Linked DNA regions of Homo sapiens. The protein of the gene in region 1 interacts with the protein of each later gene in a biochemical or structural test. Each region holds a gene or a part of one and is shown on either strand. Other genes may lie near its edges.

The links.
Region 2: the proteins of SLX4 (region 1) and SUMO3 form a complex in vitro, tested with the Homo sapiens proteins (one study listed by BioGRID).
Region 3: the proteins of SLX4 (region 1) and UBE2I form a complex in vitro, tested with the Homo sapiens proteins (2 studies listed by BioGRID).

What each region holds. Positions count from the first base shown.
Region 1 is NC_000016.10:3,590,957-3,594,606, forward strand, and holds part of SLX4 (structure-specific endonuclease subunit SLX4), read right to left. Parts: intron 3,644-3,650; coding exon 3,497-3,643; intron 1,910-3,496; coding exon 1,743-1,909; intron 355-1,742; coding exon 1-354. UniProt on the Homo sapiens protein: Regulatory subunit that interacts with and increases the activity of different structure-specific endonucleases.
Region 2 is NC_000021.9:44,805,085-44,808,180, forward strand, and holds the end of SUMO3 (small ubiquitin-related modifier 3 isoform 1 precursor), read right to left. Parts: intron 1,957-3,096; coding exon 1,867-1,956; 3' UTR 533-1,866; downstream 1-532. UniProt on the Homo sapiens protein: Ubiquitin-like protein which can be covalently attached to target lysines either as a monomer or as a lysine-linked polymer. Does not seem to be involved in protein degradation and may function as an antagonist of ubiquitin in the degradation process.
Region 3 is NC_000016.10:1,316,081-1,319,730, reverse strand, and holds part of UBE2I (SUMO-conjugating enzyme UBC9), read right to left. Parts: intron 1-3,650. UniProt on the Homo sapiens protein: Accepts the ubiquitin-like proteins SUMO1, SUMO2, SUMO3, SUMO4 and SUMO1P1/SUMO5 from the UBLE1A-UBLE1B E1 complex and catalyzes their covalent attachment to other proteins with the help of an E3 ligase such as RANBP2, CBX4 and ZNF451.

The DNA.
Region 1 (3,650 bases):
ACACCTGCTAGGAGTTGCCCAGAAACCGGACTGCCACCCTCCAGCCAGTCAGCGTCCTCGCCGGCACCCGCTGCCCTTTCTTCCTGGAGAAGCTTTCGCTGAGTAGCTGCAAATTCATAAATTTCTTCCATTTCTGCTTCATTCACGTTTTCTTGATCTTCTTCGTGGTCCTTGGATTTCAACAAAGTCTCCGCTTCCTCCTCTTCATCTGCCCACATTGACCTCAAGAGTTCCTGGAAATTCTCGGCCCTGCTTTCGCAATTCTCTGCTTCCTTCTCCTCCCATGGTTTGCCCTCTGAGTCAGTGGCAATAGGCACCTGTTCGCACAGGTGAACGAGCTCACTCACGCCAAACCTGCAACACGAAACATCGACAGTCATCGCCCCTCTGCGTGGAGATGGGCTCTGGGTGCCCCGGTGGGGTGGCGGACCAGAGCAGAGTCTTCACCAGGAGGAATGACCATGACCCAGGCCCTGCTTCCCTTTGAAGACGGTGTCCACACTCCTTGCCAGAAACACCCAGGCCACTTAGTTCCAGAAACCGGGGACTGACAACACTTAAAGCAGGGCTTCCTAACTATAGCTGCAGACATAAAGGGGTGTGTCGGACTGAATGTAAGGTAACAGGGATTGGCAGAGCTACAAAACTGGGGAGTCTGTGCTGCCTCAGAGGCTCTTAAGATATGGTGTCAGAGCCAGGCATTGTGGCTCATGCCTGAAATTCCAGCACTTTGGGAAGCCGAGGATCACTCAAGGCCGGGAGTTTGAGATCAGCCTGGACAACATAGAAAGTCTCCATCTCTACAAAAAAATGTAAAAATTAGCCTAGGAGTTCAAGGCTACAGTGAGCTGTGATCATGCCACTGCCATCCAGCCTGGGCAACAGCAAGAGACTCTGTCTCTAAAAGGATAAAAAAGGTCATGCATGGTGGCTCATGCCCATAATCCCAGCACTTTGGGAGGCGGAGGCAGGAGGATTGCTTGAGGTCAGGAGTTCAAGAACAGCCTGGGCAACACAGCGACACTCCGTCTCTCCAAAAAATAAAAAATAAATGAAAAGACATGGCATCAGACACAATCCACAGCACACCAAGTCCTTGAGTCAGCCCAGGCCAACGGGCAAGCCAGCCAGCCACCTGCTTGAAGGCTCTGTGGCCCGTCAGTATATTTCCAACTCCAGAGGCTGAGCTGTTCCTTTCCTAAGAAAGCAGCGGAGGGAGGACGCAGGCTCGGATCAGCGGCCCAGGCCCTGTCCAGAGGCACAACACTTGTCCCTCTGAGCTGCTGCCTCTCTCCTAAGATGCTGGCTGGACAAGCCAGGAGAGCTGTGGCATCTGGGATGCAGCCTAAGCATTCTCTCCATGCCTGTTTTATGGGACTCTGGAAAGGACTGCTGTTGTTCAGGTCTAGTGGTGGAACAATCACTGAGCAGCAGTGTTGGGGGGCGCTGTAGCCAAGGGCCATTCTCTTATCACACCTAGGGGGTTAAAAACCACGGGACTCAATAGAGTCCTCCTGATCCAGTGCTTGGCACCCCTGCAAGGGTCTGTTCTGGCCTGACTTTCACCTAACATGCCCTGTTCCACAGGGTCATCACTGGTCATGGACTTGGGATTAAAAGGTATAAACAGGACTGTTAGTTCTCTTGGCCTCAGCCCCGAGCCCTCTGCAGCACAACCCTCCAGAGCTGTTAACCTGCCAGTCCTCGTCAGTTAATTTCAAAAGCTGGGGAGCAATCCAGACCTGTGGGCCAGGGAGCTCAGCTCAGAGCTAAGGCCAGGAGGAAGGCCAGTGTCCGCAGTGTAGAGATAGTGCAGGAACGTGCGGGCGGCCTCGGTGCTCACGTCACCCAGCAGGACACGCTGGGTCAGAACCCCGTCCTCTACAGCGGAGAAGCCTTCATTGTTCACCTGCAGGTGAAATGCAACACAGAGGGTTTACTGATCAGAGAGTTGTAACTTGGAGCAAAGCAGACGGTCTGGGGTGTCCTGCAAGTCACTAGTCTTTTTATTTTTCTTTTTAGAGACAGTGTCTCCCCTTGTCACCCAGGCTAGAGTACAGTGGTGTGATCATGGCTTACTGCAGCCTTGAACTCCTAGGCTAATTTTAAATTTTAATTAATTTTATTATTTTGAGTTGGAATCTCTCTCTGTTGCCCAGGCTGGAGTGCAGTGGTGAGATCTCGGCTCACTGCAACCTCCACCTCCTCGGTTCCAGCGTATTCTCCTGCCTCAGCCTCCCGAGTAGCTGGGATTGCAGCCGCCCACCACCATGCCCGGCTAATTTTTTATAGTTTCAGTAGAGATAAGGTTTCACTATGTTGGCCAGGCTGGTCTTGGAACTCCTGACCTCAGGTGATCCACCCTCCTCGGCCTCCCAAAGTGCTGGGATTACTGGCGTGAGCCACTGCGCCCAGCCCCTAGGCTAATTTTTAAATTTTTTTGTAGAGATGGGCTCTCACTGTGTTGTTCAGGCTGGTCTTGAACTCCTGGCCTCAAGCGATCCTCCCACCTTAGTCTCCCAAAGTACGGGGATCTCAGGCATGAGCCGCCGTGCCTGGTCCCTAGTCTTAAAAGCAGCTCCATGCCCCAGGAAAAGCATTAGCCACTGTTTATGCAGATTTTTGGCCAATAATTTTACAGGTGAGGCCTAACACTCCTCTTTTGTCAAATCGTATTGGGACTAGATATTCCAGGACCCCGTTAAGAGTCCTCCTGATAGACACATATGGGATCCAGAACTTTGACAAAGACTGAGAATAGCTCCCTGAGTTCCTGCCCACACTCAAGTCAAATGCTTTCAAGTCAGAAGGCAGGTTCATCAGCAACTCATCCCTGAGGAGATCAATTATGAGCCTTTGTAATTATGCAAATAGAGAAAAGAGAAAACAATTCTGGGAAACAATGGATTTTCTTTTTGTTTTGTTTTGTTTTTGAGACAGAGTCTTGCTCTGTCGCCCAGGCTGGAGTGCAGTGGTGCAATCTCAGCTCATTGGAAGCTCCGCCTCCCAGGTTCATGCCATTCTCCTGCCTCAGCCTCCCGAGTAGCTGGGACTACAGGCGCCCGCCACCATGCCCGGCTAATTTTTTTGTATTTTTAGTAGAGACTGGTTTCACTGTGTTAGGATGGTCTTGATCTCCTGACCTTGTGATCTGCCCGCCTCGGCCTCCCAAAGTGCTGGAATTACAGGCGTGAGCCACCGCGCCCGGCCAAACAATGGATTTTCATTCAACAGAACGAAAACACTGATGTTTCCCAGTTGTGAGGCCATCCCCTCACACCCACTCCTAACCTCAAGCGTGGGTCTTTATCTCTTCTCCACGTGTTGCAGAAACGGATGGTTGGGAGGGAGAAGGTGAGAACATGGTGGGGCAGGAAGTGAGGGAGAGTGGGGGGGTGGAAAGGGCACCTGAGACATGGGAAGACCTGGTTGGAGAAAGGCAGGAGGAGAGAGGGAGAGAGAGGAAAGGAGGGCACACGGCAGCCCACGTACTTACATACTGGATGAGGAGCGGGCATCGGGCATAAAGCACGAACTTGTGGGCGTAAAGCACCTCCCCGCTGTCCGTCTGAAACTGGACATCACTCAGGTGTGGGTTATTGACCATGGCGCCAAAGTCAGCAACCAGCAGCCCGAGGGAGAGCTGAAGC
Region 2 (3,096 bases), on another chromosome or scaffold:
TTCACCTTGGGTTCATTCAACTGATGGGCTAAAACAGCTCATTTTCAACCTGGGTTTTGTTACACCACTGCACACTGGGAAATTCTTAAAGCCAAATCAATGTCAGTTCAGTTTCAAAGCAGATAGGTAAGTTGTCCATGGCAGAAGGAAAGCTGACTTACATTCAAACACCAGAAAACGAGAGATGTCCTAGACTAACACCCAAGCTCACCTGCCTCTAAAATCCACCCTTTCTTTACATACGAAACCCAGGAGAGGGAGGGTAACATGTCACAGTGATGCCAGCTCAGACAGCTGTCAGCCAGGAGGTCTCTGAGGAGAGGATGCATCCCTCAGCAGGAAGAAGGCTGGACTAGCATTGGTGATGTGCCAGGGGAGGGGAAATGAGCTGCCAGGCGAATACTAACCTTCCAGCGGCTAGCTTTTCAATCAAAGTTTCTCAGTGCAGTGGCTGCCTGGAATGGTCAATTCAAACACTGAATTGTACCAGTATGCCCCAACCTTCAAATGCAGTGTTTAGTAGAAGCCAAGAGACAGAATACCAAACTATATTTACTGTTTACAGTAGTAAAGGACAACAAATAATGTACAAATTGGTGAATAAACACAACAGAGCCAACAAACATCCCACCCGAGCCCATACAGCAAACAGGAAATGAGAACATTTCAGCAAGATTTCAAGCAAGCAAGAGATGATGGGTCATTGTTCAGGTGACTGTAAAAAGGCAGAGAATGGCCACCAAGCAGCAATGGAGCCTCAGGGAAGGACAATAGGCAGAACTATGAAAATGTTTAATTGGTATAGATCCCAAAATATTTCACAGAACTGAAATCACCAGACTAATGCATAAATTCAATACCTATTTGGAAAGCAGCACGGCACAAACCCACGAGAAGAACATGAAGTCATCATTCCATGGGTTCATTTGTAACCACACTTGGAAGTAGCTCTTATACACGACAACATAACTGCAAATTCAGCAATACTTAGTCTTACTTTTTTATGTATAGACCATAATCATTCATCAGAAGCAAATACTAGAAGAAATCTGAGGCCACAACACCATTACCAAATGAGAAATGTGGGAATTTCTTCAATATTAAGAGGGAGAAAAAGGCCAATTTTGGTTGTGCCAATCCTTGCCTGTGTACCAACGCCAGGTACTGAGCAGGGAGTGGGGTGGGAGGGGTGGCAGGGGGGTGGGTCCTGGGCCTCAGACCCCGAGGTTACATGCTTGAGGGCCAGAGAGCACGTGGGGTCAAATTACCAAAAGACTCGGTTATTTTTTAACCTTTGAAGAAGCATTCCAGTATTTTCCCTTCAACTTTTCCATATACTGACAAAGCTTAAATTTGCAATATTTAGCATTTTAATCACCTGTGCCTGTAACAGCAAGTGACAGTCTGTCCTCCCTACCAACCTTGCCCCCAATACCTGTCCAACAGCTGCATCCCCACTGCGGGAAACACCAATTCTCTATGTGACTGGAGTGAGCAGGGGAGAGGCAACCAACTCAGGAGTCAGATCCCTGGCCAGACTAAAAGCGAACATTCAGGCTATAATTTTGGGGTTAAAAAAATGTTGTAGGAGGGGGGGAAAACACAAATGAGCACACAAAAGTACCCACAATATCTTGCAACTCATTTTACCTGAACAAAGATAACAATTCTGATTGGCCCAATTTAAGTTACAGATTCATCCCTGCAGATATAGTTTTGAGTTGCACTTGAAGTACATCAAAGAGAGGAAAATCATCGTGGTGAATGTCCTCGAGTTTCCGCAGACACCTTTGTGGTCGGCATGGTCACGTGCTCACCATTCAACAGCAATGCGAGGATGGACGGCCCGGGCTGGGGACGGGCCCTCTAGAAACTGTGCCCTGCCAGGCTGCTCTCCGGCACACCTCCCGTCTGCTGCTGGAACACGTCGATGGTGTCCTCGTCCTCCATCTCCAGCTGTCATGGTTGTCACAACAGGCACAGCGAGAGAGAGGGGAGCCTGTTAGTTTTCATCAGAGAGTGGGAAGATCCTCACTGGCATGAGTGTTCCCTGACACTAGCGACATCACCTGGTCACACCTTGGCTCTTGTCCGTCCCCTCACTGCAGCTCAGCACGCATGGAAGAGGCATTGCTGTATGCTCACTACAGCCCTTACGGTTCAACAAGCTTCCCCTAACAAAACTCACAAAAGCAGATTCAAAGCTAAAATGTTAACTGAGAGAAAAACTGAGTCTAGAAGATAAACTGAAATGTCTAAAATTCTTACTGAAAATTACACAAAATCAGATTCTAATTAAGAACATCTGATTAGCAGCACTGAGTCCTAGGACCCACAGGAGCCTTGCGCTTTATACCAAGTGCGGGGGACCATGCCATGAAAGCCAAAGCCCCCAGCTCACAGAAGGGCCCGTCAAGTGAGGGTCCATTGCCAGCTTCTCCCCGCCCCTCCCCATTTAAAGCCCAGGCAAGGTAGTGAAACACCCCCGCTCACTTCTCTCCTCCTGACACAGTGGGCGCAAAACACCCACCCTGATCTTCTTCCATCCTCTAAGCAAGAGGAAGCTTCTGCCAGTTCCTACACAGACTCAGCAAGGCTGGAAGTAGTCATGCTCCCAGATGGAAAGGAGTCCCATCAGGGCTGTCGGCCACCCTCACCCTGCCACCGACACTATGGGCTGGAGGGAGAGCCCCCAGGCAGGGCTCCCTCTGCCTCTCGGTCCACCTGTCCACAGCCAGCCCCCTGACCCCCAGTCAAGCCCCAGAGACTCCACGAGGCCCTCCCTGCTCAGCTGCTCTCAGCAGCTTCTCCCTGGTGAACACTCCCAGAGCTGCCACTGCCTCAGCGGTGTGTAGGTTTCCTCAAGTAGGTACAAATGGATACTTGTTGCAAAGATGTTTTCAATATTTATTAAATACTGAATAGTAAATATTTAAAATCTTAAATGTTTTGCAAAAATATTTCCACATAAAACATTCCAGTGGATTCTCACAACATTGAAAGGGAGAAAAAGCAGGTATTGGTTCCATTTATGGACAGACAAAACTGAGACTCCACAAGATGAAGTGATGCTTGGTCACGGGGCCATCAGCTGAC
Region 3 (3,650 bases), 2.3 Mb from region 1:
ATACGGGCTTTTAGGACCCTGTGTTATTTCTTTACAAAAAAGCAGAAAAGTTTGCCACCATTAGCCCCACCAGGGACCATCACAGTTGATATTCTAGGCTATTTCCCATCTTTTACCTGGGCATCCTCCCTCTTCTCTCTCAATGCTACGGAAGGACACACAGTGCGGCATGTCTAGTGCAGCCGGAGGAATTACCAGAAAGCCAACGCGCCACGAACACCTACAGCTTCCCCGAACACTCGCTCCTACCGACCACTGCATCTGCCCCGTAATCCCAACTGCAACATCCGCAGGCAGCTTCCTGGACTTCAGGTACCATGGAGATGCACAGGGCACACTCCCTGGGGAACGCGAAGACACCACCGCAGACCGTCCCACACCGCGACCATCCCACACCGCAGGAGCACACGGGCGACACCAGCAGCTGCGTGGCTGTCCTGAGTGCGAACACGCGTGAGCGCGCTGCTGTGGAATGTGGGGTGACGGTGTTGGCCCTCAAGCCGTGCTGCTTCCAGGCTGCTCACGCAGGCTGCGTCGCTGGCGGATTCCAGCCACCGGGTGAGGTGCACGGCAGCCACTCCGTGGTGCTACGCTGCGCCTGCTGGTGACCGCTGAGCGCCCCTTTCGGCCCAGGCTGCTTCCTGGCGACTGCTTCGCAGAAGTTCCTCAAGCGATACGTCTTACAGGGCTCTTCTGCTTGGGGCTTGACTTTTTGCTTTTTTAATTTTTTGAGATGGAGTTTCACTGTGGTGCCCAGGCTGGATCTCGGCTCACTGCAGCCTTCACCTCCCGGGCTCAAGTGATTCTCCCGCCTCACCTTGGCCTCCAGAGTAGCTGAGGTTACAGGCACCCGCCATCAAGCTTGGCCAATTTTTCTATTTTATTAGAACCGGGGTTCCTCCACTGTTGGTCAGGCTGGTCTCAAACTCCTGACCTTAAGTGATTCACTTGCCTTGGCCTCCCAAAGTGCTGGGATCACAGGTGTGAGCCAACGCGCCCGGCCCGACCTTTTCCTCTTCTAAGGGAATCTTTTGGCAAAAACAAAAATTGCCTAATTTCAATTTAATCTGATTCTCAATCTCGTTTCTTCTGCCGATCACAACTTACCCGCAGAAAGGCACAGATGCTGGATGCCAGCACTGCCAGGTCCACCTGTCCCTCCCAAGGTAGAGGCTGCCTCCTACTTCCTCATGGCCTCCGGCTTGGCCGCTCCCGCGCTTCAAAGAAGGAACACAAAGGGGGTGCCCTCCTGTCTGGACTGTCCGCCAGGCATCATGTGGCCTCTTCACTCTTCCCTACCTGTCATCCTAGGACGTCTGGGCTGGGGCAAGTGGGGGTGACACCGGCACCCATCTGTGCCTCTGGTGGACACATGTATGTGCTTCTGTGAATCTCGACTGACTCAAGTGAACAGCCAGGTCCTACAGCATGAGCTCAGCTTCCACTGGTGTGGCAGGCAGCGTCCAGGGGAAACGTTCAGAACATCCGCTCTCTCCAGCGGTGGCTGAGGCTCCCGCTGCCCTGCGCCGCGGCTCCGTCTGCTCCCCTGTGCGCTACGGCAGATCCCACTGGGGAGGCTTTCACTCTTTGGCAAAGCCAGGCATCCCTGCCGCATTTGCTGGCTGGGTGGAGGCCTTTCCTGTGAGGGACACGCTGGACGTCATGGCAGCCTTCTTACTGATTCCCAGGAGCTCTTGGTAGATTCAGGGTGAGGGCTGAGGTACGTACATACACTGTAGTGTGCCCTCCTGCCCGGCGCCAACTGCAGTCTTTATGATAAAGAGAGATTCTTAATTTCAACTTAGTCAACTCGTCAATCTCCCTCCGGCCAGCACTTCACTGCATCCCTGGTGAAGAGATCCCTGCCTGCCCAGGGCTCACGGACACCATCCCGGGTCTTCCTCTCCACGCTGTCCTGCTTGGGCACCACAAGCCATCTGGAAGCTGTTTCTCTATGGTGGGAGGCAGAGCTCGTCTCTCCTGCTGGAATATCCCTCAGGTGTCACAGCCCAAACCACCACATGCGTGGCCTCCGGACTCCTCGTTCTGTCCGCGGGTCTGCCTGCCTGTCTTCTCAGCAAGCCTGCAGTCTCCATCACCGTGTCCCGTGGCAGGTCTAGTGGGGGGTGGGTGGGTGTGCTCTGCACCCACGGAGCCTCAGCCTGGGTCTCGCCACCCCACCAAGAAGCCAAGGCCTCCACGTTTCTGCATTTCCTGGGTCCATGGGACAGTTTCCAACAAGATGTGCTTGACTCCAACTGGGATCACATGGAATCTGCAGACGAGCCTGGAGAGAAGGGCTGTCTGTACAATGTCGTGTGTTCCCCTCCACACACACGGCAGAGCTCAGCTACCGCTCAGGCCGGCCTTGGTTTCCCTTGCAATATTCTACAGTTTTCGGTACAGAGGTCCTGAACCAATCTTTTATTGCATTTATTCCAACGTATTTCATGCTACTATAAATGGCAGTTTTAAAACCTTGCTCGCTGAAATGATATAAAAGCAGATTTGTGTACCTCAATCTCGACTTCATTTTTATATTTATTATTTAGCTTTGTTTCCTTTACCAGGTCCTGTGCTACTTTTCTTTTCTTTTTTTTTTTTTGAGACAGGGTCTTGCCCTGCTGCCCAGGCTGGAGTGTAGTGGCGCGATCTCGGCTCACTGGACCCGCCTCCTGGATTCAAGCACTTCTCCTGCCTCAGCCTCCCGAGCAGCTGGGATTAAAGGCACCCACCACCACACCCGCTAATTTTTGTTTGTTTGTTTGTTTTTTTTAGTAGAGACAGGGTTTCACCATGTTGTCCAGGCTGGTCTTCACCTCAGGTGATCCTCCCACCTCGGCCTCCAAAAGTGCTGGGATTCCAGGTGTGAGCCACCGTGCCCAGCCTTGCACCTCAGCTTTACTGAGCTGTTGTCCTGGCCTTCCTCCCCACCTCTTCCGTTGTGACTTCTTTTTCTTGTCTTGCTGCATTTGCTTGGAATTCCAATCAACGGTTGAACAGAATCAATGAAAGCAGCTACTGTGTCTCATTCTTATATTTTTCTTAATTAAAATAAGTCATCTTAAGTAATACCTGCTCATGGTTTAAAAAAAAAATCAAACAGCAAAGGACAATCCAAAAATGAAGCAAGTCTCGACCAGCTGGTGCTGTCAGCAGTCCTCAAGCTCCTCTGGTCACTGCCACTGTGGAAAACACTTGTGTGTCTTGAGTGACAATTGCAGTGGAAGCTTTTACACAGCACTCTCGCCTCACCGTGGCCAGGCGCTGTCTAGGTGCTGGGCACGTGTTAATGCGTGGAACTCACCACAGAAAGGGCCTGCCGATTTCCAGCTATGGGACGGCAGGGACGTGGCGGCCCTCTCCTCCCTCTCCTGAGTTTTGCTGAACTGACTGAGATCACTAACTTAGCTGTAGGCTCAAAGTCGAACCTGGCCTCAGCCCTTTCTTCTCGCGCCTTCTCTGCTGCTCCCCTGCTCTATGCCTGCCCGGCTGCAGACGCAGCCCCGGGTGGGAGAGACTGCGAGAGCCCACAGGAAGAGCAGTGAGGTGGGGCAAGATAAACCCTCCAGTGAGACTCGGAGTGGTGGCGCTTCTGCACGTCCATCCCATCCAGGGCTGGGGTCTTGTGGGCACCAAATCCTGTCTTC